Homo sapiens: one gene and its partners. The protein of the gene in region 1 purifies or fractionates together with the protein of each later gene. This does not show direct contact. Each region holds a gene or a part of one and is shown in the gene's direction. Other genes may lie near its edges. The genes, in order: CRTAC1, BRIP1, VPS13A, MOCOS, NOCT and ITM2B.

Region 1 (5,102 bases):
TGCAGTGCCATTCCCAGAAAGAATAGTCATAAAACAAAGTGAACTGAGCTAGGCGGGCATGGCATGGACTGGGCCATACAGAGCAGAGGTCACCAGGAGCTAGTGAACTGGCCTGGGAATTTGGCCCTCAACAATCACAGAATCCTAGAGCTTTAAATCCAGGAACACCTGAGAAGTCATCTAGTCCTCTTCCCTCCTTTTCAGACGTGGAAACCAAGGCCCAAAAAGGAGCTGCAACTTTCCCAAGGCATCTGCACCCCCGTCTGGTCCTTTTTCCTGCCGGGTTGCCGGCTGCTCCTCAAAAGAGCTCAGCTCCAGGCTGCTCCCAGCACCCTTCTCCAGAAAGCTCCAGGTATTCCAGAAGCCCAAGTGTATGAACAAGATCAGGAATAAGAGAGGCAGGGCTTATCCTTCCCACTTTGCTGACATGGAAACTGAGTCAGGATACGTGCCCATCAAGTAACAGAAGAACCATACTTGGTCCTTAGAACTCAGCTGGGATTAAATACAGATCTGAATGGGGGTCCCGAGTGCAGAGAGGAGCCTGTTCAGCTGTGAGGAGGGAGGCAGGGTCAGGAGAAGGGTGCGGCAGATGGAGAATCTGTATCACCCGTTCCCAGAACGTCCCGCCCAGAACCTCATGCCCTCAGCCTGCCTGCCAGCAGGAAAGCAGTCTGGGGCCAGAATAATTCCCCTAAAGCTAGCTGGTTCTCCTTCTTCATGGCCAGCCCCAGAGCAGCCAGGAAGGATCTCATCCCCTAGAGTCATTTAATGCACCCTCCCCACAAATCTAAGGGCTAACTTCCCTCCCTCCACCCCAGACCTGGCTGTAGAGCTCCTGGAACAGGAAAAAAGCACATCCTCTTTCCCCAACTGCTTATGGAGACCATGGCAGAAGGACAAGTTTAGGCCAAAGGAAGGAAAGTGAGCCAAACATACACCCTCTCTGCAGTTCAGATCCCCAGACTCAAGGTTTAGAGCCCTCGAAGGCTGACACAGAAGAAAGAGGGAGAAGGAAGCCTGGGGCTGCCCTCGTGTCACCCAGTCATTGGAAAGTCTCAGTGCCTCCTCCCACTGCAGAAGGTGTCTCACATGTGCCAAAATGCCATGTTCGTTCTTAGAGCTGTGCACAAATCCTATGGCCCTCCCCTCTCCCTTCCTTTCAACTGTCCTTAAAATTTTCCCTTCACACTGAAACTCTGGGATCAAATGGACTTGAAATCCAGACCCTCCACCCAGGCATTTGGAAGTGGCCTTAAGAAGTTGTTTCATCTCTGAGCCTCAGTTTCTTCATCCACAAAATAGAGGCAGTGATAAAATCCTCATAGAGTTGTTGTGAGGCTTCCTCGAGCCTATAAGGTACTTGCTGCAGTGCCTGACTGATGAAATGCAGATATTGTCATAAAATCTGTGCCAGGACGTTTAACCTCCTGGTTTCACTTCCAGCAATGCCTGACTTTAAAACAATCCATAAGCCATTAGCTGGGGCAATATTAGACCTATAAGGATTCTTCCCAACAAGACACATCCATCACTCAGAGTTACAAATGCGGAGTTCATCTGGGGACTGGGATAGCACGGCATCTTCCCTTTGAAGAGCTCCAGCCCTATATTTAGATCTGCACTGGGGAGCCCAGGGGCGATCGGTACCCATCCATTCACCTGCCTCTCCAGGGTCTGCGAGCATCCATCTCAAGCCAGGCAGGCCTCTCGCTCATCTCTGATCTATCAGTCATCTCTCTATACCCATCTTCTCTGTATCCATCCACTTATCCAGCCAGCCAGCCATCCAGCCAGTGATTCACTCACAGTAATTCACTCTCTAGGGCCTGAGGTCCAGATCTCTCAGGTAAAGAATTCAGCACCAGAAGGATTTTCCCCACCTCAAAATGGTGTTTGGGGAGTGTCAGGCAGGGCCGACTGGGGTGGGACACACGCTTCCTCCCCTCCTCTCCCAGGATAGGTAGAGGTCATGAGCAGAGCCACAATGTCACAGCTAGGGCAACATCACTGAGAGCTGCTGCCCAGCTCAGGGGGTAGCCTGGGGTCACTGCATCCATCCTTTAATTGAGTTATAAGGTGACCACTTGCAGGTGAATTGTATCCTTCAGTGACCACTGCCTATCTGCATGGTACTGAGCTGCTTCTCAGTGGCACCTTGCCCTAGGGGTCTGCAGATGACACATCTGTATAGGCCTGCCTCTTCCTGCCAACCTGAGATGGGCAGCATCTTCCATTCACCTGGCCAGGGCCAGGCCCTGAAACAAGCACTCAGGATAGGGGGAGGTGGGGGTGGGGGTGGGGAGTGAGTAAGACAGGCTCCCTGCCCTTGAGAAGTGTACTGATTAATTGTGGGCAGCAGGGAAAAGGACCCTCGCAATCTCTGAGGTCTTGTAAGCTGTGTGTAAGCTTGTGTGTAACATTGCCCCCTTCTTGGGGCCTCACTCAGCACTGTTCTCAGGTGATAGCTGGTTCCCAATCACTTTTCCATTACAGAAATCGATAACTTGAATTACTCCAAAATAACTAGTACCTTCATGCCCCTGCAAAGCTAATTTTTCTGGGGATGCATTTGCCCACGAGTTTCTCTCTGGTCTGGAATCTGTCTTCTATCTTTATGAGTCAATCCAGGTAGAACACTCTCTCTTCTCCCACGTCTCACTCTTGTGGCAGAGTGAGAGTGGGATCTGGAGTCAGAGACTTAGGTTCAAGTCTTTGCTCTGACACTTACTAGCCCTTGTCAAGCTACCTAACCACCTAGAACGTCAGTTTCCTCATCTGTAAAATAAGATTTCAACACCCCAGTGTTCGAGAATTAAATGGAATAATAATGTACATGAATGTTCCTGGCATTTATTCGGGAATCAGTGAACCCTTGGATAAATATCTGTTTATTCTATGCCAGAATCTGAAGCCTGCTATAAATCTACATCATGAGGCCATCGTATAACGAGGTCCTAGTATCACTTCTGCAATAACAATATCTTACATTGGAGAAACAGATGATTATTTATAAATATACACATTCTCATAATGACAAAGGTGAGACTCAGGAAAGTTAAGTGAATTGCTGGGGGTGGGAAAGGGGGCAGCTGGCACAGCCCTCTGACTCTCTTCACAGTTTCCCACTTCCTCCATTGTCCCTGATTCAAAACCCGACGCAGCTCCAGGATCCTGCATGCGAAGTTCTGCTGTCCAGCAGATGCTGAAATGACAGGCCCTTTGAACATCCTCTTGGAGGAAGAGTTGTGAGCTTGGTGCAGGCTGCCCTTGGCACTGCCAGGGGAATAAATCCTCCTAGAAGTCGCCCGAGAAGGCTCATGCGGAAACCTCCGAAGGCTGGGCTCTGAAAGGAAGGAAAGAAACCGACATTACCAAGCATCTCTTTCATGCCAAGCACATTCATGGCCAGTTTCTTACTGACTCCTCAAAACCAATTGTTCTTAACCTTTTTAGGGGGTTGCATACCCCTTTGAGAATCTGCTGAAAGCTGTAGATGCTCTCCTCAGATAACGGCACATAATATGCACCTGAATGCAGTCGGGTCGAGGTTAAGAACTCCTGGTGTGAACCTGGGCTGTTTTCAGATTTTCTTAGGCATCAGGGACCTTCCCTTTTAGAGGGCCCACCCACAGCAGAGCAGACATTACATTTTCACACACACACACACACACACACGTAACATAGAGTTGCAGTTGTCTGTTTGGCATATGTGTTACATTTCCAGATATTTAACAAAACGTTAATTTCAAGTGTGTCCTTTCTTTTCCTATTTTGTAGCCAACAGGCTTTTCTGGTGAATTTTATTGAAATATATCACCAGTACAGACAAATACACAGCTCTTAAGTATACAGCTCAGTGAATTCTCATGAAGTGAGCACCCCGTGTAACTGGCACTCTGATCAAGAAACAGAACATCCTGAGCTCCCAGAAGCCCCCCAGGTCCCCATCCATTCGCTACCCCCGACCCAGGGTAATCTTGATCCTGACTCCCAATCAAAGGCGAGTTTGGCCTGTCTTTCAGTTTCATATAAGGGGAATCACATGGTGCATATGCATTTTTGTGTCTGGCTGCTTCTGTGGAACCATAAACTTCTTATTCAGGTCTCAGGCATTTTCAGAGGTGTATTAAAGGCTTATAGGCTATAGGTACTGTCAAAACCAGGGATTCTCAGCCTTACCTTCACATTAAAATCACCAGGGAAACTCTTTAAAATCCTGATGCCCAAGCTGTCCCCCAAAACAATTAAATCAGAATCTCTGAGGATAGGATCAGGCATTGGTGATTTTTCATGCTTCCAGTTGACATCCATTGCCACCAAGGTTGAACGCCTCGGGTCTAAACAACTCTGTGAGATATTAGTCTCCCTATTTAACAACTGGGGAATCTGAGGCTCCAAGAGTCTTCATGTGTCAGTGTCATGAAGCCAGAGCTCAAATTCAGATCTGATGTGGAGTGGTGTTTGCCTTGCCTTATCCCTGGGTGAATGGTAAAGCCCAAACCAGGTGGTGATGCCTCCTGTCTGGGCCCCCCTCATTGTGAGTCCTTCTAGAGGTGTGGAGAGGGATGTGGAGTTTCCCAGGCTCGACAGCCCAGGGGCTGGCCCTAGGGAGAAAGTCACCAGACTCCACCTTTGCCCCACACCTCTGGAAGCCACAGAAAAGTCCCTGCGGGTGGCAGTGGCTGCCAACCGGGGAGCCGTGGGGGACGTGTCACAACAGCCATAGTTCTTTCTGTCTCCACCTTTGATTCCCCGAGTGCAGTGCATAATCCTGCCACTCAGTGGCACCTCGAGCTTCTGTAAACCCTGTGGTTTCACACACACCCGCCCTGTGGCCAAAGGAAGGAAGCCAGACAGCAGGGTGCTGGCGCAGGGAGAGGAGCATGTGCAGCAGGAGCTTCCTGAGGCATGCCTGAGTGGCTGGGGCCTCACTTGGGACCTCGGGGACAGTCTGGCTGAGGCTGGAGCTGCTCCTGGGTCTTGATGGGGCCTGTCCCTGGCTGGCAAGGTGGGTGCAGGGACATGGCTACAGCCAGACCCCGGAGAGACAGGCCACCACCTGTAACTAAGCCAGCAGAGAGAAACCACACCTCCCCAGG
Region 2 (5,102 bases), on another chromosome or scaffold:
TAATTAGCAAGGAGGGACCAGAACCCAAATTTTCTGATTCCTCATCCATTGCTATTTTGGTTACACTAGAAACAAAATCCAAAGATGGCATTGAGGTAGGGAGAAGTTGACACAGTATGAAGAATAAGAACAGTAGAGGTTAGAGAAAGTGAGTGAAAATAATGTAGAAAATGGCCTAAATAAATATAGTTAGATGAGTCCTTTCCTCCTAATTTTTATTTTTAATACTTTGGAGGACTAACAGGTATCATCCTTTAACATGGCTGAATACAAAGCTTTAGGAGAACTGGTCCTCAGCTATTCATGTCTTGTCCTTTGATTTGCTGACATTCTTTTATAGGTTATGAATCTCTTATGGTTTACTTTGTTTCTAGCAATATCTAGATACATTTGTGTATGTATTGATGTATGTATGTTTTGAAAACACGGATTCTCCTTTTGGATAATTCATAGATAAAAATACATGTAAAGATTATATATATGCATATATATGTGTGTGTATATATATACAATTTAATTTATTATACAGACGTATACAAATACAATTTAATTTTACACACACACACACACACACACACACACACACACACACACACACACAGAAAGAGAGAGACATTTCATCCTGCCTTGGCTTCTCAAAGTGTTAGGATTATAAGCATGAGCCAGTGCGCTCAGCCTGTAATGAAATCTTTTATTTCCAGTAATACAATGGCAAAGGACATTAGTAGATAACCTAAAAGAAGAAATTCAAATTATTGCTGAACCTTGTTAGACTAATTATTTTTATATTTTATAATTTTAATAATTATTAGACAAAAATATTTTGAATATATATATATGGGGAAATTATTATGTATTTGTAAAAAATACATTGGCCGGGCATGATGCTCATGCCTGTAATGCCAGCACTCTGGGAGGCTGAGGTGGGCACTTGAGGTCAGGAGTTCAAGACTGGCCTGGCCAACATGGCAAAACCTGTCTCTACTAAAAATACAAAAAATTAGCTGGGCATGGTGATGCGTGCTTGTAATCCCAGCTACTTGGGAGGCTGAGGCATGAGAAGTGCTTGAACCCATATGTATATATGTATGTGTATGTACACACACATACACACACACACACACACACACACACACACACACACATATGTATATAGCTGCCTCAAAGTCTTTTATCCCTGATATAATTTATATATTTTATGTATGGTTGTTTTTTGTTAAGGATAGCAAACTAGGAAAAATAAATATTTTTATTTCAAAATCGTTTTAAAATAAATAGTAGAATTAATTAAAATAAAAGTGGCCCATTATTCTACCACTTAGTTCCAATGACAATTGAAAAAGAGAAGTAGTACATGTATGTGGTTAGAAAATGAAAAGAGAGGCTTTTTCTAGATCCTCCATCTCCTTAATCCTTTAAGGTAACTACTGTAAGATTTTATATATCTATTCTACCAGAATGTTTAAAAAATGTATTTGCTATAATGTATGTGCACATATTCTTTAAAAAAGCAATTTACATGAATTTAATCATTCTATACACGTTATTCAACATGTTTTTCTCACTTAACATAGAGAGCCTAATCAACACATAGACAAATCTAAATCATTTTTAAGGGCTAAAGTTTTTGTATTAATTTACCATAATTTATTTAACATGTCCCTTATGGGTAGACATTTGGTTAATTTTCAATTTTTTGGCTATTTAACAGTACAGGGTACATCTATTCACATTAATGGTAAAATTTTAAATTTTGGTAGTTTTTTGACAAATTGCCTATGTACTTCTACTACTAGAATTTTATACTTCTACTAAAAATATATATACTTTTCTAATTTTGTACATTTTTAATAGTATATGAGACACTTGTTAGGGCTGGGTTTTATCAAACATTTTATTTTTTTATTAATGCACATAATGAGTATTTTTTTTTGAGACAGGATCTCACTCTGTTGCCCAGGCTGGAGTGCAGTGGCGTGGTCACTGCTCACTGCGGTTTAATTTTTTTTGTTTTTTTGTAGAGATTGAGTCTCCCTGTGCTGCCCAGCTGGTCTTGAACTCCTAGGCTCATGCAGTCCTCCGGCCTTGGCCTCTCAAAATGTTGGGATTATAGGCATGAGCCACTGTGCCCAGCCTGTAATGAAATTTTTTTATTTCCAGTGATAGAATGGGGTGGAGTGCAGTGGCTCATGCCTGTAATCCCCAGCACTTTGGGAGGCCGAGGCAGGCGGATCGCTTGAGTTCAGGAGTTCAAGACCAGCCTGAGCAACATGACAAAACCCTGTCTCTACAAAAAAGGAGCCATATGTGGTGATGCACTTGTGGTTCCAGCTACTTGGTGGCTGAGGCACAAGAATTGCTTGAACCTGGGAGGCGGAGGTTGCAGTGAACCAAGATTGGATCGTGCCACTGCACCCCAGGTGACAGAGTGAGACTCCCATCTCTGAAAAAAAAAAAGGTAATAGAATGGCAAAGGGCATTAGTAGATAACATAAAAGAAGAAACACAAATTACTATTGAACCTTGTTAGACTATTCATACAACACTATGTTAAACTTTGCTAGAAACTATAAAAAATACAAATCAAAACAAGATTCTATTTTTTACTTTTAAGATAGAGATAACAAAAGATAACACCAGTGTTGATAAGGATGTGGGAAAAGGGTAATGCAAAGCAATATATACTTTCTGGAGGATAATTTCACTATATGTTTTCAAGAAACTTAAAAATACCTTGTAGCGTCTGATCCCATAATGCCATTTCTAAAAATATAGACTAAGAAAATATTTAGAAACCAGCATAAGAATGCTCACTGCAGCCTTATGTCTAAAGCAGAAATTGGTAACAGTCTATAAGCCCAGTAATAAGAAAACTGGTTCATCAGCTATGGCACATTAATTCAATGTACATATATGAGCAGCAACGAAAAGATGCTTAGTGATGTCAAGATTTTCCTTGTATGATTTTTAATACGCTAGACAGAAGAAAACAAAGGGAATATGCTTTATAAAAATTTTTGTTTATTGTGGCTGAATTGTTAATAATCCTCAATGCCTGGGGAACATTTGCTTTGTTCTTGTTTTTATTACTATTTAGAGATAGGGCTTTGTTTTGTCATCCAGGCCGGAGTGCAGTGGCTTGATCATGGCTCACTGCATCCTCGAACTCCTGGGCTGAAGTGATCCTCCTGCCTCAGCTTCCTGAGTAGCTAGGACCATTGATGTACGCCACCAATCCTAGAAAATTTTTTATTTTTTGTAGAGACAGGGTTTTGCTACATTGCCCAGGCTGGTATCAAACTCCTCACCTAAAACAGTCCTTTTGCCTAAGCCTCCCAAAGTGCTCACACCTGTCATCGTGCCTTGCTTGTTCTTGTTATTTTAATATTGGGTCACATTGTAGAGATATCCTTATATACACATGTATAGAAGAAATATGAAATGAAATACACCAAAATGTTTCTAGTGCATTCTTTGTGTAATAGAATTATGGATAATTTAGGCTTTTTTTGGTACTCCTGAATATTTTGTAGTGAATACTCTTACTTTCTTTTTTTCCCCTTAGGACATTCCAACCTACCTACTTACCTTCCTTCCTTCTTATTTATATTTGAATAAGAAATACTATCACATGGCTCAAAGTTGAAAAGGTACAAAAGGGTCTACAGAGAAAAATCTCTCACTCCTGTGCCCAGTCACTTAATTCTCATCCTTGGAAGCAACCAGTGATACCATTGTTTTGTGAATCCTTTCAGAAGTATTTCATGCCTAACATCAGTTTAATCAGAAAAAAAAAGGCATAACAAACATATTTAAAAGAAATTTTTTTCAAGTTAATTTAGGGTATTTGGAGCTCTTCCGATTTGGACTTCTATCTAAGTCTGAGTCAACCAGACTTCGTTGTGATTGTAGCTATGGTATTGTCTCAAAAAAGACAAAAAATTAGCCAGGTGTGGTGGCGTAGCCAGTAAAATCTTAGCCTTGTGGCTTTAATGATGTTCCTCAAATTCTGAGATAAGCTTATTTTATTCCTTCTATGCTAATATTGGTTCACATTTCAGTTATGCATATTTGTTTCTAGGGAAAATCCTGCTATTTTTATCATGGAGTTCATAAAATTAGTGATCAGCACACATTACAGACTTTCCAAGGGATGTGCAAAGCCTGGGATATAGAAGAACTTGTCAGCCTGGGGAAGAAACTAAAGGCCTGTCCATATTACACAGCCCGAGAACTAATACAAGATGCTGACATCATATTTTGTCCCTACAACTATCTTCTAGATGCACAAATAAGGGAAAGTGTGAGTATATGTGTAAAAATGAGAACCTTCTTCCTACTCATGGAGATGTAAATGTTGAATGTAAAAGCTTTTAGATGTTTTAATTTTTTTTGCTTTAATTTATGTAAATAAATTTGTGTAAACATATTAGAGTACTGAAAACATATCCTAACATGGGTTAAAATCAACCCACTCATTTTAATTTCCAAAATAACAAGCAGTTTTAAGGAACATAGTGACTGAAGTGGGATTACAGCAGGATTTCTCTTTGCATTTATGAATATTCAAAAAGAATTATTTAGAAACATTTCTCTGAAAAAACTATGTTTTGAAGAACTTATGTGGGGGAATAAAATTATGCCTTGTGAGCTTTGAGAAGTGAACTTCAGATAATGGCATTTGTGTTTGTTTGCCTGGTTCTTTTTAGAGACATGCAATTGTTAACAGCATAAGACAAAAAGTGAATAATTTGGCATAGTCAATTGTTATTCCTGTCTTCAGATCTGACTGCACAATTCATCTCAGCTTTCTATTTCTTTAAGATCCAAATTAATAGGCATTATGTTTACTACCCCTTCTATCCTACCTCTTATTTGGTTATCTCTTAACTAGATCTCTTCCTTCTGAGACACTGTGCATATCAATGCCAGGTCAGTTTTCCAAATATTGCTTTTATTACATCCTTTTATCTGCCTAAAAATCTATTGCTTCCTTTGCTCATGAGATAAAGTTCATATTTCTTAAGCTTACACTCAAGATGCTCAATAGTCTGACCTGGATCTGCCCAATTTGAATCCTTCAAAAATTACCTCATACTCCC
Region 3 (5,102 bases), on another chromosome or scaffold:
AGGGTTGTAGTTGATTCCTTTGGGATCTAAGATTCTTTTGTTTTACTTTTTACTATTATTTCATTTTAATATTTTCTTATAAATAATAAATTATTCATAATATATAGCAAATATTTTAATCTATTTTTATTTGTTTTAGTACCTACACAGGAATCAGTGAAGTGGGAAATTAATGTTATTATTAAAAATCCTGAAATTGTGTTTGTAGCTGACATGACAAAAAATGATGCTCCTGCTTTAGTCATTACAACACAATGTGAAATTTGCTATAAAGGTAACCTTGAAAATAGTACAATGACTGCTGCCATTAAAGATCTCCAAGTGAGAGCCTGCCCGTTTCTTCCAGTCAAGAGAAAAGGCAAAATCACTACTGTGAGTTAACTATTTGATCATCTGCTTAATTGTAACTATTTTGGATGTAGTGTATACCATTTTAGGAAACAAAAACTACCTACATGCTTTCCAACCTTGCTCTGTAAAATGTCTTTCTCTCTGCTTAGAGAGCTTAATTTAGAATATTATTTACCAGCTTTGAAACTCTTTCATTCTTCCAGATGCTGCTCATTATTGTTAGTATTTGTGGGAATATTGTCACTAAGAAGTTGGGTTCATCTTGACAGTTTTCAGTTAAGATCTACTTTGACTTTCTAACCATGTCAATTCCAAATTGCTCTTTGGACTTTTAAGACTTTCTGCCAGTTGTTTGCTGTGTTGTTTCAATTTTATTGTTTCAACTTTTTTCTCCCGTTTGGATGTTTTTGCTCAAATAATGAGTTTTTCCTTGTCTCCATGTAACTTCATTTGAACCTTCAGCCATTTGCTTTGACATACTTCACATTGATATTTTACTCTCTAGTAACCTCTTGGCCTTCCTCCTCTTCATAACTCTACTTAAAATTCATTCCTTTACAGACATCTTTTCAAGTTAACTGGCTGACTTCCAGCGAATACTTACAAAAATATTTGAGCTTCTGAAGGAGTAATAGAAGCATAAGTTTTTGTTTGTTTCTTTGTATTTTTTTCCTGATGCTTGGTATGCATCTATAGAAGCATAAATGTTCTAAACATTGTCACCATAGAAATATAAGATGTAATTTTGATACAATGAATACATATATATTAGGATATAAGATAAACTGTTGCCCAAATTTGCAAGACAGTTGGCCCTCCACTAAGCAAAGAGAGAGAATAGAAAATGGAGGGTATACCAATTCTCTCTTAGTTTTTGACTTAGAAGTTTTAAATATATATTTCTTCTATTCACATCTTTTTTGGCTTGAATATAGCTGTATGACCACACTTTACTTCAGTAAAGGTTGGAGACTGTGGTATTTTTTTCTGAGCTACCTTGTGCTCAGATAAAACTTCTATTACTGTGGAAGAATAGAACAGATATTAGGTTCTAGATGTCCTTTATATGGGATAATTAAGGAGTGTATTATTAAGTCACTTTTTAAATAGTTGTTTTTATTAACTTGTTTATTTGACATACCTATTACTAGGAAAGTCTTTAAATAGAAATATTTTTATATTTAAACATTAATTTAGTGGTATTGATTTTTCTCTCATAGGTTTTGCAGCCCTGTGACTTGTTTTATCAAACTACTCAGAAAGGTACAGATCCACAAGTGATCGATATGTCAGTAAAATCCCTGACACTAAAGGTAAATTAAAATATAATCATTTGAATATTTAGTGCACTTAAAAAAAGTAGTAAAGCCTAGAAAGTTATTATAGCAAGTCTTTTAATTGTTATGCAAACAAAATAGGTGTGTTTTTGAAAATACGTTTTTATGAGATATTTACAAAGTAATATTATTTAATACACATTTTATGAATGTTATTCTATATTTTATTATTTACATTTGTGTGGTTAACATCTAATATCCCTAATAAATATTATTGAAATTACTTTATACTTCATCAGTTTAATAATATCTGCAATTCATGTATATTAATAATATCATGTAATTCATGGAATAATATCTGCAAGATTCATGTAAATATCTGCAAGATTCATGTAAACACATAACAAGAATTATGGTAATTTAAAAAATTTTATAAACAATAAATTGTATCTTCTATTTTGTGGTAGTAATGTTAATTCAGTATTTAATTTCTCATAATATATATTTAATATTTCTTGACGTAGTATGTTTGAAAGTGTTTTGTATAGACTTATTAATTTTTTTCCATTTAGGTTTCACCAGTTATTATAAATACTATGATTACCATAACTTCAGCACTGTATACAACTAAGGAAACCATCCCAGAAGAAACGGCTTCTTCTACTGCACATTTATGGGAAAAGAAGGATACAAAGACTTTAAAAATGTGGTTTCTTGAAGAATCAAATGAAACTGAAAAAATAGCTCCCACAACTGAATTGGTACCCAAAGGCGAGATGATAAAAATGAACATTGATTCTATTTTTATAGTTCTTGAGGCTGGAATTGGTCATAGAACAGTACCTATGCTTCTGGCAAAGTCACGTTTTTCAGGGGAAGGCAAAAACTGGAGTTCCCTAATAAATCTGCACTGTCAGCTTGAGCTAGAAGTAAGCATATTTTTCCAGTTTTATAACAGATAATGATACGTATGGAATATTATGACAGATAATGATACATATGGAATATTATGGAATCTTGTGTAGCTATTTAAGCTTATTGTAAATATGATATTGGGTCAAAAACTTTTAGAAAAAAGTTTTCAAATTTTGCCCTTGAATAATTGCTTTTATGTATACATTCCTTTTACTTTTAAAGTACATGTCCACATTAAGTTTATATTTCAACTGATTTTATCAACTTAAAGATAATATATTATTCGACAGTTGTTGATTAGATTCAGAATATTTTTTTTAAAGAGTTAAATTGAGGCCAGGCCCAGTGGCTCACCTGTAATCCCAGCACGTTGGGAGGCCAAAGCAGAAGGATCGCTTGAGCCCAGGAGTTCAAGATCAGCCTGGGCAACATGGTGAAACCTTGTCTCTACTAAAAATACAAAAAATTAGCCAGTGGTGGTGGCTCACACCTGTAGTCTTAGTTATTCGAGAGACTGAGGTGGACGATCACTTGAGAATACCTGGGAAGTCGAGGCTGTGGTGAGCTGAGATCTTACCACTGCACTCCAGCCTGGGGTTCAAAGTGAGACCCAGACTCAAAAAAAAAAAAAAGAAAAGAAAAGAGTTAAAGTTGAATACCCTTTTTTTTTTAAGGATATAGACAGAATTTCTGAATATGTGGATAATAATCTCTTCTAATAGAAATATGAAGAATTAGAAATATATGCCTTATACTTTTATGTAATGTAGAATCAAGGAAAGATGCTTAAAAAGGGGTTTTATCTGGACTAAATTGTGAAGAGCGAATATGTACTATGAAGTTAGCCAGGTGAGGAAAATGCTGAGGGAGTGCTTATAGGAAGCTACTGAATGGCATGTAGACTGGTTTTTATATAGAAGAAATAACAGGGCTAAAAAACATGGTGGGAAACAGGATGGAAGATCATTTTTAATTTAAAAAATTCTCTCTGTAGGTGCATTATTATAATGAAATGTTTGGTGTATGGGAGCCTTTGCTTGAACCCTTAGAAATTGATCAGACTGAGGATTTTAGACCATGGAATCTTGGTATCAAGGTATATCTATATATGTCTATGTGTGTATATATATATATATGTATTTTAAAAGACTTTATTTTTTTAAGAACAGATTTAGGTTCACAGCAAAATTGAGAAGAAGGAACAGAGATTTCCCGTATACCACCTACTTCTGCACATGTATAGCCTCCCCCTTTATTAACATTCCCTCATCAACGTATATTTGAAGACTGAAAAAATTTTCCAAAATTGAGAATGTTTATACCACACTCGACACTTTATTTTAATCACAACAAGGTTCAGGTTGTCTCATCATGAGCCTTGCCCACATGCTTCCTTGTTTGCCCTCTGAATATAATTTTCAAATCTAAGGCCAATGTTGCCTATGCTTCTAATACAATTATGTAACAAGTATTATGTTACTTGTTACATAATTTAGAACAATTTAGAACATAATTTAGAACACAGTTTAGACATTGTTCTAAATATTTTAATCCTTACAACAACTCTTGGAGGTAGATACAGTTTTTATTTAACATGTGAAGGGACTGAGACCAGGGAGGTTAAGAGACTTCTTGAAGTAATAATAGCTACAAAGTGGAAAAGATGGGATGCAAATCCAGCTGCAGAGGCGTTAAATCCACTCTAAACCACTATGCTATAATGCCTGTGTCATCATCTTGTAGGTTGTTGTCTATCCTGAGTTTCCTTCATCCTTTGGATGTTTGCATGTGTGCAGGAATGTATATTATTTGTTTGAAATATATTGTGGATTTATATAATCATGAGAATCGGGGCCTTTAGGTGGATGAAATTTTGCTTCTGAAGCAAGAGACTGCAGAATTACTCACGTGTTTCCTACCTAATAATGACTTGGTCAACCTGCAGACAGATTTTCAGTGGCTTAAAGCCAGTTAAAGTAACAACAGAGGTGACTAGCTTAGCATGTTGAGCTCTTTTCATATTAGATCACTTAATTTTATTTTCCAGATATTTTAGATGAAGGATATGAAAAGGAATTCCTTGGTGGTTTTTAGGTTAGAATACACATGGTCAGCAGATCTGTGACTCCTAAAAAATGGTAAAGGGTATTGATTCTTATGAGCTCTAGGTTTATAACACTGTTCTGCTACTATTGTCTGCCTTTGTAAGTCTCTAGGTTTCTGTTCTTTATTATTAGCATGACCAATACATTAAGTTACTTTTTTCTGTCTGAGTTTTTATGTTGCTTTGAAGTATGTGCTTTTATATTCAGATCCCGGGTACACATAGTAATTTTAGGTTTTTATTTTTCCTTCTAAATTGTGTCTGCCATTTTACTATCACTGATGATGACATGATTTATTTTCTCTAATACTTCTGTCCTTTATGACCTTAGTTGGCTGATGTCCAAGTAATTTCAATAAGGCAATAGAACTTACTGAAATTAGAAAAGATAAAATGTACTGACCTTTCTAATGTTGGTATTGGGATTTGTCTAGTTATGTTGTGTTCTTAGAATT
Region 4 (5,102 bases), on another chromosome or scaffold:
TGATTTTAATCTGCAGTTTGCAAAGGTTCTTGTAATTCTCCTTCTTTAACCTTTGCAAGAGCCATAACCGTGGGAAAGCCTGAGAGATGGCAGAGTTGAGATTGCAGGTGGTGGTAATGATGCAGCGCTAAAGCCAAGCAGAGGAAAGGCAATGAGGATAATTACCAGGTCCCACAGGTTACTAGCAATGTGGAAACAGAACATATGGTAGCTGCAGTGGCCAGAAATCCAGTGCAATCTTTCAGTGTATTTTGGAGGAAAAAAAAAGTCTAAAACTAAAGGGCAAATTCTGCGTTAATGAGCACATGTAGCTCCTGAGAAATGCTGGTGCCTGGTCTTATAGGTCAGGCCCTACCAAAGCCTGTCTGGGGGTTAAGTTTGAGGGAGGTCATGATACTCTGGGACACATTTGGTGAGGACACCAGGAAGGGAGCAAAACTAGAAGTTAAGAGGAAGAGTGACATTGGGAGGAGGGCCTTCCTCCTTGAAAGTGGATGGCTAAGGGCAGCACAGTGGCCCCCTTCACATATTTGGAGGCCGGGATCAATTATTTCTGCAGGAAAGGCATCAGCAGTGGTGGTGGGATCTGCAGGGCAATACGTGGGGACTTAGATTAAGTGGCGTTCATGGCTCTGCTTCATGCTTGGAGAAAAGGGCATCCTCCTGAGGCTGTATACTGCATTCTCTGGAGTTAAACAGAGCCACAGCCACCTGTCTGGAACATGTAGAACAGACTCTTGCACTGGCCTGCTTCTGAGCTGACTTCCAGCTCTAAAATACTCTTCCCGATCACATTTGGTTTTACTAGTGAGGAGAGATTTTTTTTTTTAACTATATCATAAAATTTACCAGCTGGGTACAGTGTCTCAGGCCTATAATCCCAGTGCTTTGGTAGGTCAAGGTAGGAGGATTGCTTGAGCCCAGGAGTTCAAGACAACCCTGGGCAACATAGCAAGAGCCTATCTTTACAAAAAACAAAAATTTTAAAAAATCAGCCAGGTGTGGTGGCACATGCCTGTTGTGCTAGCTATTCAGGAGGCTGAGGCAGGAGGAGCCCTTGAGCCCAGGAATTCAAGGTTATAGTGAGCTATGATCAGCCACTGTACTCCAGCCTGGGTGATAGAGTAAGATTGTGTCTCTCTTAAAAAAAATCTATTTCAGGTGTCCAATGATGATTTTTTAGTGATTGACCTAGTGATGCAATCATCACTATAAATCAGTTAGATGTTTTCATTCCCCTGAAAAGATCCTTCATGCCCATTACAGCTAATCCTTGTTGCTGACCTTACCCCCAGGCAATTGCTAATCTACTACTTTCTGTATCTCTACAATTCTTTTGCTGGACATTTAATGTAAATTGATTCATGCATTATGTATATTCTTGTGTCTGGAGTATTTCATTTATCATGCTTTTGAAGTTCTTTCATGGCATAGCCAGTAGTTTGTTCCTTTTTATTGGCAAATAACTTCCCTGGCTGGGCACAGTGGCTCATGCCTGCAATCCTAGCACTTGGGGAGGCTGAGGCAGGAAGATTGCTTGAACCTAAGAGTTCAAGACCAGCCTGGGCAGCACAGTGAGACCTCATCTCTACAAAAAGTAATTTTAAAAAGTTAGCCAGGTGTAGTTGTGCACACCTGTAGTCACAGTTAGGAGGCTGAGATGGGAGGATCGCTTGAGCCCAGGAGTTTGAGGCTGCAGTGACCTATGATCATGCCACTGCCCTCCATCCTGGGTGATGGAGCAAGACAGAACAAAAAACCAAATCACTTTTTATTTTATGGATGTAGCATATTTTGTTTATCTGTTCACCCATTGATGGACATTTATATTGTTTCCAGAATTTGACTTTCTGAATAAAGCTACGAACATTCCCATGCAAGTCTGTATGGACATAAGTTTTCATTTTTGAGGGATAGAAATCTAGGAGTGGAATTGTTAGGTGATATGGTAGTTTTATGTTGAGCTTTTTGAGAAACTGAGGGAGTGGATTCAGAAGGAACACAAAAGAAGCGACCCTAAGTAGTGACTTGGTGGCCTTGTCTTTGTAACCTGCCAGGTAATCCTCACAGCCAGAACATCAGCAGCAAGCTCACCCATGACACTGTGGAGCAGGTGCGCTACAGGTAAGCATCAGGGACACCTGCCTGACTGGGCATACCTAGGCAGACAGACTTCCTTCCTAGGACTTGCCTGCATCCCACAAAAGTTCTGAGTTGGTTTCAGGAGGATCACAGTTGGCTAAAAGGCAATGCATGTATGTTGAGAAACATCAGAGTCAGAGCTCAGAAAGGCAGCGGTGAGTAGATGCAGTGTGGGGCAGATGAGACACACAGGTAGGTGGCTCTGAGGTGCACACAGCTGTTCTGTGTGGCTCCAGAGACTCTGCAGTGCCAAAGTGACAGGAAGTGACCCAGGATCCTAGGTCTTGTTTTCAGAAAGAAGAAAAGTACTATTTCTCTGGTTTTCCTTTTCATAAGAAGTTTTATTAGGCAACTTGTTTTCTTCCTGTCTTTTTTCCCTTTTCCCCCCTTTTTTACTAGTATTTGTATGTTAAACAGCTCTCTATACTTTCTAAACATAACAGTATCTGGCAAATAATTTCCAGGTTGTCCTTAAAATTATTAACACAATTTCCAATCACACAATTTCAAGTTAGTTCAAATGTGAAAGTGATACTGTTTTGCTATTAGAGTTGCCAAAACTAAAAGCAATGTAAACAGGTTGATTACTACTTAAACCTTGTTATGTTAGAGCTGAGCAGAAAGCACCAAGGAGAGAAAGTAGTATCAACTCTGATTAAGTTTATTGTGGATTTTTTGTCATACATATCCAATTGGAGATATCCAGTGATATTTGGGAGGTAAGAGGATTTTGCCAACTGGAACTCGTTCCCACGGCTTCCATTGCCCTCGCCCTAATTTCGCAGCTGTGGCAAACCTATCTATCCATTAAGGTAGAGATGTCATAGTTAATAGAAATAAAACAGCCTGCAAACATTCAGTGCTGGGGCTGAGATCCGCGGGTTGCGGGGATGCTGTGCTTCTTCCAGAATCCTGGCGCACTTCCACACCACCGCAGAAGACTACACTGTGATCTTCACTGCCGGGAGCACGGCTGCTCTCAAACTGGTGGCAGAGGCCTTTCCATGGGTGTCCCAGGGCCCAGAGAGCAGTGGGAGTCGCTTCTGTTACCTCACCGACAGCCACACCTCCGTAGTGGGTATGCGGAACGTGACCATGGCTATAAATGTCATATCCACCCCGGTCAGGCCAGAGGACCTGTGGTCTGCAGAGGAACGTAGTGCTTCAGCCAGCAACCCAGACTGCCAGCTGCCGCATCTCTTCTGCTACCCAGCTCAGAGTAACTTTTCTGGAGTCAGATACCCCCTGTCCTGGATAGAAGAGGTCAAGTCTGGGCGGTTGCACCCTGTGAGCACGCCTGGGAAGTGGTTTGTGCTGCTGGATGCAGCCTCCTACGTGAGCACCTCGCCTTTGGACCTGTCAGCTCACCAGGCCGACTTTGTCCCCATCTCCTTCTATAAGATCTTCGGGTTTCCTACAGGCCTGGGCGCTCTGCTGGTCCATAATCGTGCGGCTCCTCTACTGAGGAAGACCTACTTTGGAGGAGGGACAGCCTCTGCGTACCTAGCAGGAGAAGACTTCTACATCCCGAGGCAGTCGGTAGCTCAGAGGTAACCTTGCCACAGGGGAGGGGTCAGAGGAGTTCAGCAAGGTGGGGTCTGGCCTGTTTCTCCTGGAGGATTATGCAAGAGGTGGGTCTGGCTTTGAGGGTCAGCAGAATTCAGGTTGCTGGCAGGGACAGGCTGATGGCAGGGCTCAGATCTGGGAGGCAGAAGTTGACTGGAGGTGACACAGGTGTTCAGTGAACTCTACCCCCATTTGAGAGGCTTCTCCAGAGCTGTGAGAGGACTGGGGCCTGCAGATAAGAACTGCACACAGGAGAGATAAAAGGCCCTCATGGGGTAAGGAGGGTGAGCTACCAGGCCTCTGCCCTCAGCACTGACAAGAGGTTGCAACAGTTGAAACAGTGGCCTTAAAAGGTGGCACCCAGTGGCTTTAAAAGGTGGCACCATTTGGAAAAAGTCTGCCCACACATTGACAGCATAGCTGGTTCTCCAGGAGCTAGGATCAGCTCAGCCTGGCACCTAGTTAGCAGGAGGAATCAGTTAAAGCAGAGGCCCCCAGACTTGTGAGGCAGTGTTAGCGGCAACCTCTATGAGCCCCACTGTGAGTGAGTTACAGAGGGAGTCTGGGTGCAGGTTGTCACTTGCCCTCAAATGCCAGAGGCCTCTGCCTGGGTTGTTGGCATATGCATCATCCCCAGGCTGCAAGGGCAGGTGGTGTGGGTTATGCTCAGGACTCTTTCAAATGGTAACAGCTGGGACCTGTAAGGTCGAGTGTGTCAAGGCTGAAAATGGTGGCTGATCCAGGGTTCTGCTGGGTCAACAGTGGGGACACAGGGTTGGGTAGGCAACTAATCACCTCCAGGGTCCGGAGAAGGCCTGGGGCATAGACGGGAAGGGCTTTAGATCCCCAACAGACCCCACACAGACGCAAGGGTCCTGCACGTAGGGCCATGGCCTTGACGATAGAGTCAGTGTTAGCTGTGTAAGCCTCAGGCTGGACCACTGGGGAATGAGTCCCCGCTCCACTGCACACCAGCGAGGGGACATGTGACTTGTTCTCTGCACCTCATGTTTTTTCTGTAAAGTAGAAATGATAATATTGGGTCGGGTGTGGTGGCTCACACCTGTAATCCCAGCACTTTGGGAGGCCAAGGTGGGTGGATCATGAGGTCAGGAGTTCGAGACCAGCCTGCCCAACATGGTGAAACTCCGTCTCTACTAAAAACACAAAAATTAGCTGAGTGTGGTGGTGGGTGCTTGTAATCTCAGCTGCTCAAGAGATTGAGGCAGGAGAATTGCTTGAGCCCAGGAGGCAGACGTTGCAATGAGTCAAGATCATACCCACTGCACTCTAGCCCTGGTGACAGAGCAAGACTCCATCTCCAAAAAAAAAAAAAAAAGAAATGATAATATTGTCCTTTTAGAGCTAACATGGGTGAAGTATCAGAATGGTAG
Region 5 (5,798 bases), on another chromosome or scaffold:
CAACAGAGCGACAGACTCCATCTCAAATAAATAAATAAAAAAAAAATAAATAATATGATGCACTTTCAGGATAGCATGCTCTTTGAATCTCTTTAAATAGTGACAGTTTATATTTGAACAGTTATTTTTTCATTTTTCAAAGCACTTTTCCCCAACATTTTATTATGAAAATCTCCAAATATATGGGGGAAAAATAATTGTAAGTGAACACTTGTGTCGGGACTCAGAAACTGATAGCCCAAAATATGGGGCTTTGACCGGCTGAATGGAAGCCTCAAGGTCTCTCTGACCTCACTGCCCAGCACCATCTCTCCCAAAGCACAGGATGAAGTTGAAGTTCCTTTATCTGGCTACAATCCGAACCCACCAAAAGGAACAATTGTTTTTTCTTCCCCTCCTTGTAAGACCAAAAATGTAACCACCTGAACAGACCCTTTCACAAGATAATGTGCAAGTTCATCCCTGTGCCCTGATCCATTCACTTTCCCTAGTCATCTCCTCAACAGAATGCCTCTGCTCCCCTCTCCCCAAGTCTGTTGGCCAGGATGGTAGACAAGCTTCTGAACCCCGTTGGGGGTGTGTAATCACTCTGTGATTCTCCCCATGTACATGTTAATAAATGCATATGCCTTTTCTCCCATTAATCTGCCTTTTGTGAGTTGATTTTTCAGCAAACTTCAGAGGGCAAAGGGAACATTTTTCCCATGGTCCCTATACCCATATATACCCACTACCTAGATTCAAAATCAACATTTTGCTATATTTGCAAAACACTTTTCATAGGCTAATTTTATTATCACCTTTTTAAAAAAATTCTTTTTACAAGTACTGCTCCTTGTGGAGCAGGACTACTCGATAGACAGTGTGCCCAGAGTAGCTTATTATCATTTTTTATTTCACCTAATGACTAAGGTATGATTCTATGTTTTATAGATAAGGAAACTGAAACTGAGGCTTTAATGACTTCCAAGGAGCTTGTCTGCCAGAAGTTGTAATCAACTTGTGCCAGCTGATCTGTCCACACCCTCTATCCACAGGTGTTAGATATGTAACCTAGGTCTGAAAAATATTTAGAATATTCTTGTGATGAAAAGCTTGCAATTCCACAACACAGGGGAATCAGCAAAATCATGGGAAAACCAATAGAATACATTTCTAACTCATGAATCATTCAGAGAAAAATCCAGTCTTGGGTTTTCCCTCCCCCTCATCCCATTTCTATTCCTGATTAGTCATCATTTCCTGCCCAGCCTGTCTGAGATGTTTCTTCCATCCTTTCTTTTCCAGTAACAGTAACCTGGTGCGGGTCTACAGTATCTGTTATCTCAGCTGATTTCCTTTCTGCCTTTTCATGAACCAGAGACATGTGATTTCCAATTAAAGCACAGCCCTGACCATGTCTTTGCTCAGCTTACAAAACGTCAACGGCTCGCAGCTATCCACCGAATTAAGCCTACTATAATCCCCTTCCTTCCACACTACAACCTATCCACGCATCTGTCCTCTTACTCCTTAGCTTCCATCTTACATGACTAAGAGTTGTTTCCCCAAATACACCCTTATTTACTTTTTTCATTTATAACTCACCACCACCCCCTCCAAAGTTTCACGTGGGTAAATTCTAGACCTCCACGTCATAGGCCAACTCAAATGCCAATCCTTCTAATGAACCTTCTAGAGAGCCCGGGCCTGTTGTCATCTCTATAGCCAATCTTTGGCATCTTGTGGCAATAATCTCATTCTACCTTGTAGAGCTTTCTGGTCTGACTTCCCTTGCCACCTTCTGCTCCCTTTGCCTAAGTATAACACTTTTGAGGAAAAGAACGCTGTTTTAATCATCGTCGCCTCGCCCACAGGCGGTGCTTTATTGTGCTTAATATCGTTTAACGCATCACACACTGCCGAGGGGGTCGGAGGCGGACGCCTTTTGCTGTATCCACACAGACCCGCGCAGGCACACACGTAGGCCGTCTGCCACTCTGACAGACACGTGTCCCCTGGGCCACAGCCCTGGAACTGTCTCGGGATTCCCAGCCTGTGGGCGCTTCCATGCTGGCCAGCGGAAGGGGACGCTTTTTTCTTCAGAACAGCTCCAACGGATACCTCTTATTTTAGACCGCCTGCGGATTCTATCTATAAATCAGCCTAAGCCCCGCTTCCTTTTAAAACAGGATTACGCCGGGTCGAGGGAGCCTGGCGTGGCCGCGCAGTGGCCGGGTCCCGCGGATTCCCCTCCAGCTCCCGCTTGGTAGCGCCCGCTTTGTCAGCGCGCAGCGCTCGCCGGGCGCCCTGCAGGTCTCGCCAGGTCTCACAGCAGACGGTGCCGACGCAGCGGTGTTGCACCTCCCTCTCCGGCTCTGCTGCCCGGGATTTCCCCAGAACCTGCGCCGCGCGAGAAGGAGCCTGGGAGCATCCGCCCACACTGCCCGGACAGTCGGCTCGACTCGGTGCCCTCGGCCCCAGCCGGGCTCCGCTCCTCGGGCGCGCGAGGGGCCGTGGTGGCGGCGGCGCCCGGCATGTTTCATAGTCCGCGGCGGCTCTGCTCGGCCCTGCTGCAGAGGGACGCGCCCGGCCTGCGCCGCCTGCCCGCCCCAGGGCTGCGCCGCCCGTTGTCCCCGCCGGCTGCTGTTCCCAGGCCCGCATCCCCCCGGCTGCTGGCGGCGGCCTCGGCGGCCTCGGGCGCCGCGAGGTCGTGTTCCCGAACAGGTGAGTGCACCCCAGTTCCGGGCGGAGAACGCCACGGCCGCCAACGCGCGGCCGCCACCTGGAGACCGCGCGGAATGAATGAGAAGCCCGGGGCTGCCGGTCGTGGAGTCTGGCCTGAAAGTGGGTCCTTTACCGGAGCAACCTTCTGCGTTCCCTTTTTCCTCTTTCCCTGTTCCCCGACTTGCCTGGGGCTTGCATCAAAGCTAGTAAGAACTGGGAGACTGTATTCAGGTTCCCGCTTGACCCTTAGAGGCCATGCTTTCAGAATTTCTTGTTCTTGACCGTTAAATTTCCCCCTTCCGAGGCCGCGAGTTACTATGTTGGTTACATTTTTTATTGCACGACTTAACGGAAATTTTTATGGAAAAAAAAATCTAAATGATGCTTATTTGCTTATATAGCTTTCATGGTCTAGATATTAAGTTTTTTTTTTAAGTCGTGATAATAACACATTGATTCGTTTTACGTTGTTTTTTTTTTTTTTTTTTTTTTTTTTTTTTGAGATGGAGTCTCACTGTGTCACCCAGGCTGGAGTCCAGTGGCACGATATCGGCTTACCGCAACCTCCCGCTCCCGGGTTCAAGCGATTCTCCTGCCTCAGCCTCCCGAGTAGCTGGGATTACAGGCGCCAGTCACCACGCCTAGCTAACTTTTGTATATTTAGTAGAGACGGGGGTTTCACCATTTTGGCCAGGCTGGTCTTGAACTCCTGACCTCGTGATCCACCCGCCTCAGCCTCCCAGAGTGCTGGGATCACAGGCGTGAGCCACCGCGCTCGGCCATTTTACGTTTCTTTGGATTTTTTTTTTTTGGAGGCTTCCACTCTTTATAGTTAACATCATTTTTTGTCCTGTGTATCTAAGATCTTGTAAAAGTGAGGCCTTAGTTTCACCAAGAGCTGTTTTCATACATCATAATAACTACCCTGAGTTTTCCTTTTTTGCTACCTCTGTTTCTGCCTGGGCACACATTACCATGGCCACAAATTACATACAAATTAATTATACTTTAAAAATTGATAAATTTTTTCTTTCAAAACTAGGCAATACATAACTTTTTTTTTTTTTTTTTTTGAGACGGAGTTTTGCTCTTATTTCCCAGGCTGGAGTGCAATGGCGCGATCTCGGCTCACCGCAACCTCTGCCTCCCGGGTTCAAGCGATTCTCCTGCCTCAACCTCCCGAGAAGCTGGGATTACAGGCATGCGCCACCGCGCCAGGCTGATTTTTGTATTTTTAGTAGAGATGGGGTTTCTCCATGTTGGTCAGGCTGGCCTCGAACTCCCTAGCTCAGGTGAACCTCCCGCTTTGGCCTCCCAAAGTGCTGGGATTACAGGCGTGAGCCACCGCCCCCCCGGCCTATAAAATTTAAAAAAATAGGCCGGGCGCGGTGGCTCACGCCTGTAATCCAGCACTGTGGGAGGCGGAGGCGGGTAGATCACCCGAGGTCAGGAGTTCGTGACCATCCTGGCCAATGGGCTTGGGCGTGGTGGCACTCGCCTGTAATCCCAGCTACTCTGGAGGCTGAGGCAGGAGAATCACTTGAACCTGGGAGGCGGAGTGTTGCAGTGAGCCGAGATCGCACCATTGCACTCCAGCCTGGGTGACAAGAGTAAAACTCCGTCTCAAAACAAAATTAATAAAAATTTTAAAAAATGTATATATTTTAAAAATGGTCATCTGGAATGTGATTGAAGCCAAGACTTTAAACTATTCGCATTGTTGGCAGATATTTAGGTATTTCCCAATCTAGTATCAAACTCCTGGCCTCGAGTTATCCTCAGACTCTGGAGCAGTTGAGATTTGCAGGTGGAAGCCACCATGCCCAACTTAGTCATTTTAAAATTAGGATGTTGAATTGGTTGCTGGAGATTCTGAACTATATTGTTCCTTAGAGTGAACTTGACAGTTAGATTCCCCACCCCCACCCCCAATTTCGTAGGAATGTGGTACATTGTGAAATAACTGCCAGAATGAGTATATTGCCTGATAACTTTTTTCTTGCTGGAAATTTTAAGAACAACATTGTTAGAGGTTTGAGGTAGGAAAAGTAAAAGAAAACCAGGTGATGTCTTCTGTACCAGCTTATATCTTAAATTCCCTCAAAGTCTCAGAGGCAGGGTTAGTAGGTACCTCCTCATGGGAATACTGTTAGCTTGTGTAAAACATAGATGGCTGTGTTATCTGAGTAATTACTGTTATCTGAGTAATAATATCAGGTCAGATTGGAATGTTGGGCTTTTGACCCAAGAAAGTGTTTAATGAACTTCTTTTAAGAAATCCCCTGAAACCCCCTAGTTTTACAGATAAGGAAATTGAAGGACTTTATGGTACTTAAACTTTTGTAGGCAGTTACTATAAAGTCTAGACAATTTTCCTGTTCATGCATTTTTAGCTTCAGCAGCTTGTTGGAAGAAACATGCCTGCATTGATTCATTCATTGCTTGTTCACTCATTCCAGATCTTTACAGAATGTCTCACACAATGTAGGTGCTTTATTATGGGAGTTAAAAACATGAGCTTTAGTCAGTCCCTAAGGAGTTTACTGCCCAGTAAGAGATGAGATTTGCACAATGAAATGGCTGTTTAATGAAATGAAACACCTTTTATTCTCTTGACTTGGAAATGGCACAAGGGTGCAGGAAAGCAGGAAGTCCCTTTTGGGCTTCTAGAAATGGGTGGCATTTCAGCTGGCTCTTGAAGCATGGTTAGGATTGGAAGAGATTACTATAAAGCGTTTTGTTTGGAAAAAGCAGGAGTAAATGCAGAAAGGCATGAGACACACACAGATGAGGAAGGGTGAGAGAAGAGGCACTTTGCAAAAATGGACATTGTTTTCCAAAGAGCCTCAGACCCAGCACTAAGTGCTTTTTAATTTTAATTTTTATTTTTATTTTTTTTGAGACAAGGTTCTCTCGCACTGTTGCCCAGGATGGAGTGTAGTGGCGCCACCTCTGCTCACTGCAACCTCCACCTCCCAGGCTCAAGCAGTTCTCCTGTCTCAGCCTCCTGAGCAGCTGTGACTACAGGCACACGCCACTGTGCCGGGCTAATTTTTGTATTTAGTAGAGACAGGATTTCAACGTGTTGCCCG
Region 6 (5,102 bases), on another chromosome or scaffold:
TTGCTATCTATTTCATGGTATGAATATACCACAATTTATTCATCAGTTGATGGATATTTGGGTTGTTTCTAGTTTGGGGCTAGTATATAAATAATGATGCTGTAAATATTCATGACTAAATTTTTGACTCAGTTGATTTTTGATTATTGATCTTTAAAAATCTTGCCACCCTCTAATTAGTTTAAATAATTTGACTTTCTTAGATTTTCTACATAGACAGATTATTTACAAATAATAACAGTTTTTTCTTTTTTCTAATACCTAATCTTTTTATTGTTTGTGTACTTGCTGTAGGATCTCTAGTACAGTGTTCAGTGGAAACAGTCAATTTTAGTGGGCATTCCTGTATTCCTCAATTAAAAGGGTATGGTGAAGTATTAAAGTTTCACCATTAAGTATGAGGCTTTCTATAGGCTTTTGATTATTAGCCTTACTGATGTTAAAGAATTTCACCCTTTGCTAGTTTGCAAAGATTTTTTTTTAATGGAAGTTGAATTTTGTCAAATACATTTTCTGTATATTTTGAGATAGTCATGGGGTTTTTCTTCTTAAATCTCACGTGGCTTTTTCTTTAAGTAAAGCTTACTCTTTGAAGTGTTAAAATTTAATCACTCTAAAAACACTTTTAATAAATCTCTTAGATTAAAAACTTTTAAATCTTGAGCATACTTTAATCCCTTCTCCATGACTCGGATTGTATTATGGAACATCATTTATCTATCATACGTGATGTTAATTCTTGACTATAAATCGCTCAAAGTAGGAGCCATGTCTTAATCACATTTGATTTCCCACAGGATCTAGCACAGTATATTGCAAATAGCAAGCCTTACTTAATAAATGCTGAACTAGGCTACTGCTCTTGCTAAATAGCCACAGTTTGTTTTACGTTATGAATTATGTTGCATCTCTCCCTTCCCTTATTATCACGCTGGCTGCTGGTATAACTTTTATGAATCATAAAAAATTAAATAACCAGGCTTTTTAAAAAAATAGATCTAAGTTGGCCGGGTACGGTGGCTCAAGCCTGTAATCCGAGCACTTTGGGAGGCCGAGGCGGGTGAATCACGAGGTCAGGAGATTGAGACCATCCTGGCTACACGGTGAAACCCTGTCTCTACTAAAAATACAAAAAATTAGCCGGGTGTGGTGGCGGGCGCCTGTAGTCTCAGCTACTCGGGAGACAGAGGCAGAAGAATGGTGTGAACCCAGGAGGTGGAGCTTTCAGTGAGCTGAGATCGCGCCACTGCACTCCAGCCTGGGCAACAGAGCGAGACTCCATCTCAAAAAAAAAAAAAAGATCTAAGTTTTATTCACTCATCAAATATATGAGTGCCAGCTAATGCCAAGCCTAAGCTTGGCTTGGAGCTACCAGTAATGCAAAATGAATATGAATGGATACTTAAAAGATCTTATAGCCTAGTAGAGAGAGATAAGATCTTTATGTGAATTATTCTCATGAAAGAAAAGTGATAATTAGGAATTTAGAGAACAAAGATTAGATAGACTTTGAAGATTAAACAGCTCTTCTATGAAGTACATGATGGTGGTGCATAGGTTTGGGGTCTATAATTTGGCTGACCAAAGACTCTTGTTTATTTCCTGATTCTTAAGCCACGTTTCACGTTGTTGAGGTGCTGAATAAATTGACCTGTGGATAAGTGAAGTATTTGTAAGTGAAATTCCTCAAGAAATTGAATTTTAAAAAAATATTCAATAGTGCTGAGAAGTGATTTTTGAATGAACATGAGAAGTCAAACTCTAGCATGGTTTACAAAGGTCTTTTGTGACCTGCACCAGCTTCTTGTCCATCATTTCTCATACTCATCTCCACCATATTGGGCACTCCAGCCAAAGCACATGTGGCTCTTGGAAATGTCATGCATTTTAGCTCCATAAATTTTGAAAAATCATTGCCATATATAAAATTTCCTTTAACTCTATCTTCTGCTGAGGTAATGAGTATTTGTCCTTTAACATTCCACTAAAGTATTTTCTCCCTTGGGAAGTCTTCCTGAAACTCATCCCCTCTTATGTGCTCTCTGTGCATTTTCCTATTAGAGTTTGTATCATATTTATTTTCTTTTTGTATATTTATCTGTTTTCCGGACTGATCTAACAGGTCTCTTTCTTGGCAGAGCATACATTTCCAGTGCCTAGCACAGCTCTTGGCACATAGTAGACATTTATAATTTATTCTCAAAATGATTGTTGAACAGTTAAAAATGATATATTACAATGCCTTGAAACTTGTCATCAATTTGCCAGTTGGGGCTGCGTATTCTTTTACAGATGTCTGCCTGTGCTGTTTGGCTATTCATTTATGTACTATTGGAAGAGAAAGCCTGCCAAATGGGGTGGGTGTGTGCGCACATTTGGCTGTCCCAGCAGCTGATACCAAATGTTGGAAATAACTATTTCCATCTGTCATTTTCATCCCCCCCACTCTCCTTCCACTCTAAAATTAATTATGTTAGGAATGATTTCTTACCTCCTTAGATATTTATGTCAGACAAGGGCTCAAGCAAAAGATGTATACTTCGTCATTAAAGTTTCATAATACCTTATGACTCCATGGAATTCTTGTAGCTTTCTTTTCACAGCTGGGATATCTTACATGGCTTGCTAAATTCTTCAGACTTATTCTCATTACATACTTTTCTTCCTTGCAATACGCTCATTGTCTTTCACACATAGTATATTGACAAGTGCTACAGAAACCATGACATTCTCATAGCAATGCACTGATTCTTAGAATACACATTGTTTGTTGTTCAGTGTTAAATTCTATGTTTGAAATCTCAACCTAGGAACACACTGTATCGTATCACATTGTTCTTGGTTGCTTCAACATCTGGGATTAGACCTTTTTCAGTTGTATCATGTTAAAGTTCCTCATTTTAGAATTAAAAACATATAATCTTAGGTTTCATTCGTAACTGAATTCTTGCTTCAACCAAATCTATGTTCTAATACCGGGGTCCCCAACCGCCAGGCCACAGACCAGTACCGGAACTGGTCTTGGCTAGGAACTTGGCTGCACAGTGAGCATTGCTGCCTGAGCTCCGCCTCCTCTCAGATCAGCGGGGGCATTAGATTCTCTTAGGAGCGCAAACCCTATTGTGAACTGTGCATGTTAGGGATCTAGGTTGTGCGCTCCTTATGAGAATCTAATGCCTGGTGATCTTCTGAGGTGGAACGGTTTCACCCCGAAACCATATCCCAACACCCCTCAGTCTGTCTGTGGAAAAATTGTCTTCCACAAAACTGGTCCCTGGTGCCAAAAAAGGTTGTGTAGTGCTGTTCCAATGACCGATCCTGTTTTTGTGCATCATTCATAGTTTTTCTTTCTAATTTTATATCCTATTATATAGGTTTAGGTGAAGTCTGCTTTCTGCCTTAAGCCTACTCCATAGTGGGTTTTCCAAGTAAAGGACAGAGTCATGTACTTCAAAGAGGCTGTTCATGTATACTATGAATTTTTGCAGTCTTTACTATTTATTGAGTGACTACTTATTTAAGTATCTTTGTTTTCTTAGCTCTTTGCACATGAACTTGGGTACAAATCAGAAATTTGCTGTAATTCTAAAGTGACAGATTAGAGGGATCAGGTTAGAAGGGCACAGGGAGGGAATATCTAGGAATTATGAATGTCATGACCCCAAATAATGTTCTAATGCTAAATTGTTTTCTTAAGTGGATAGAAATGAAAATTTTATAAAATTCTGTGCTAGTTTTGTTTCTTGAATTTATCAGTAAATTTTTATCATTGAATATGTTCTCATTTTTTTCTACTGCTTCTATCTTTAAAAGAAAGTGAAGAATTTTATCAGACCATGGTTTAGGGTAGAGCAGTGGCATAATAGGATTATGTATTTCTATGTATATAATTTTGTCCTATTTTTTGAAATTCTAATTGTTTAAATAATTTTAGTATCATTGTTTGTTCTTTTCCTTATTTTCCTGTAATTTTTTCTTGTGGATGGTTTAGAATAGTTTTATACCTGGTATGAAATATAAACCACCTGTAGCAGGCCTAACACATAATTTCATAAATGATCAGATAGAGAGATGCCCTGGATTTATAATGTACAAGGCTCATCATCATATTATGTGACTAAGTTGTAGCATAACCTCTTCTAAATTATTAAATTATAGAATATATCACCAAAAGTTGTGCATGGAAAGTAAAAATTATGGAGTGTATCATTGCTTGAGGCAGGGTTAGCAGGTAGGGTGTTGAGATTAGAAGTAGACAACTCTCCTAGAGACCAATGTCCCAGTCCAAGAACCATTAAGATGAGCCCTGGAGCTACCACTTAATCATTCCTGGGTTGATTTTGATGAGAGACACAACTCCTTTGGTCTTTGTGTCTTCATTTATTAAAATGATAATCATTAAGGTTTTTCTAGTCCTGAGCCTTCTGTTATTCTGTCTGGAGATAAGATATTTAACTGTCTTTTTCATATTTTAGGACCCAGATGATGTGGTACCAGTTGGCCAAAGAAGAGCCTGGTGTTGGTGCATGTGCTTTGGACTAGCATTTATGCTTGCAGGTGTTATTCTAGGAGGAGCATACTTGTACAAATATTTTGCACTTCAAGTAAGTGGAAAAATTATTTTGTGTCTCTGATTTTTTTTTTTTTTTGCCTCTCCCGATGTGCATTACAAAATTGTTTACAACTTGCGCTAAGCTTGTACTTTTTATCTGTGACCTTCAGCCAGAGTGGTAGTTCTATTTTAAAGCTGTGTTTAAACATCTCTCCATGATATGTTTGCTGAGCCCATCACACACAGTCACTAAAAGCAGAGTAACTTGAAATGTTGGTGACTAAGGGATTTATTTAGGTCATTGGGTGATTTTACTAACCTTTATTTTCCTACTATAATTAAGGGTTGAGAGGAATAGTATTATCAATTGCCAGTTGAATAAATACATCAGCCACAAATGTTTTCATGTTGATAGGCCATAACTTGATAGTCAGCTTGGACTCCCCTATGGTCCTGCTGTACCCTTGGGCCCAGAATACAGTAAGACCATGTCTCTGCTTCTTTTCCAGTCATGGTTTCACTAAAGAACTGGGTGACTTCAGCAGTGATA

Evidence for each region.
Region 2: the proteins of CRTAC1 (region 1) and BRIP1 purify together in Homo sapiens (affinity purification with mass spectrometry; 2 studies listed by BioGRID and IntAct, with this or other methods). This does not show direct contact.
Region 3: the proteins of CRTAC1 (region 1) and VPS13A purify together in Homo sapiens (affinity purification with mass spectrometry; 2 studies listed by BioGRID and IntAct, with this or other methods). This does not show direct contact.
Region 4: the proteins of CRTAC1 (region 1) and MOCOS purify together in Homo sapiens (affinity purification with mass spectrometry; 2 studies listed by BioGRID and IntAct, with this or other methods). This does not show direct contact.
Region 5: the proteins of CRTAC1 (region 1) and NOCT purify together in Homo sapiens (affinity purification with mass spectrometry; one large-scale study listed by BioGRID and IntAct). This does not show direct contact.
Region 6: the proteins of CRTAC1 (region 1) and ITM2B purify together in Homo sapiens (co-immunoprecipitation; one large-scale study listed by IntAct). This does not show direct contact.

The regions. Positions count from the first base shown.
Region 1 is NC_000010.11:97,869,310-97,874,411, reverse strand, and holds part of CRTAC1 (cartilage acidic protein 1 isoform A precursor), read left to right. Parts: intron 1-2,833; exon of another isoform or gene 2,834-5,102.
Region 2 is NC_000017.11:61,800,454-61,805,555, reverse strand, and holds part of BRIP1 (Fanconi anemia group J protein), read left to right. Parts: intron 1-4,081; coding exon 4,082-4,303; intron 4,304-5,102. UniProt on the Homo sapiens protein: DNA-dependent ATPase and 5'-3' DNA helicase required for the maintenance of chromosomal stability. Acts late in the Fanconi anemia pathway, after FANCD2 ubiquitination.
Region 3 is NC_000009.12:77,316,035-77,321,136, forward strand, and holds part of VPS13A (intermembrane lipid transfer protein VPS13A), read left to right. Parts: intron 1-139; coding exon 140-372; intron 373-1,571; coding exon 1,572-1,664; intron 1,665-2,200; coding exon 2,201-2,557; intron 2,558-3,537; coding exon 3,538-3,639; intron 3,640-5,102. UniProt on the Homo sapiens protein: Mediates the transfer of lipids between membranes at organelle contact sites. Binds phospholipids. Required for the formation or stabilization of ER-mitochondria contact sites which enable transfer of lipids between the ER and mitochondria.
Region 4 is NC_000018.10:36,196,633-36,201,734, forward strand, and holds part of MOCOS (molybdenum cofactor sulfurase), read left to right. Parts: intron 1-2,057; coding exon 2,058-2,124; intron 2,125-3,050; coding exon 3,051-3,692; intron 3,693-5,102. UniProt on the Homo sapiens protein: Sulfurates the molybdenum cofactor. Sulfation of molybdenum is essential for xanthine dehydrogenase (XDH) and aldehyde oxidase (ADO) enzymes in which molybdenum cofactor is liganded by 1 oxygen and 1 sulfur atom in active form.
Region 5 is NC_000004.12:139,013,466-139,019,263, forward strand, and holds the start of NOCT (nocturnin), read left to right. Parts: upstream 1-2,315; 5' UTR 2,316-2,516; coding exon 2,517-2,706; intron 2,707-5,798. UniProt on the Homo sapiens protein: Phosphatase which catalyzes the conversion of NADP(+) to NAD(+) and of NADPH to NADH. Shows a small preference for NADPH over NADP(+). Represses translation and promotes degradation of target mRNA molecules.
Region 6 is NC_000013.11:48,249,333-48,254,434, forward strand, and holds part of ITM2B (integral membrane protein 2B), read left to right. Parts: intron 1-4,475; coding exon 4,476-4,604; intron 4,605-5,102. UniProt on the Homo sapiens protein: Plays a regulatory role in the processing of the amyloid-beta A4 precursor protein (APP) and acts as an inhibitor of the amyloid-beta peptide aggregation and fibrils deposition. Plays a role in the induction of neurite outgrowth.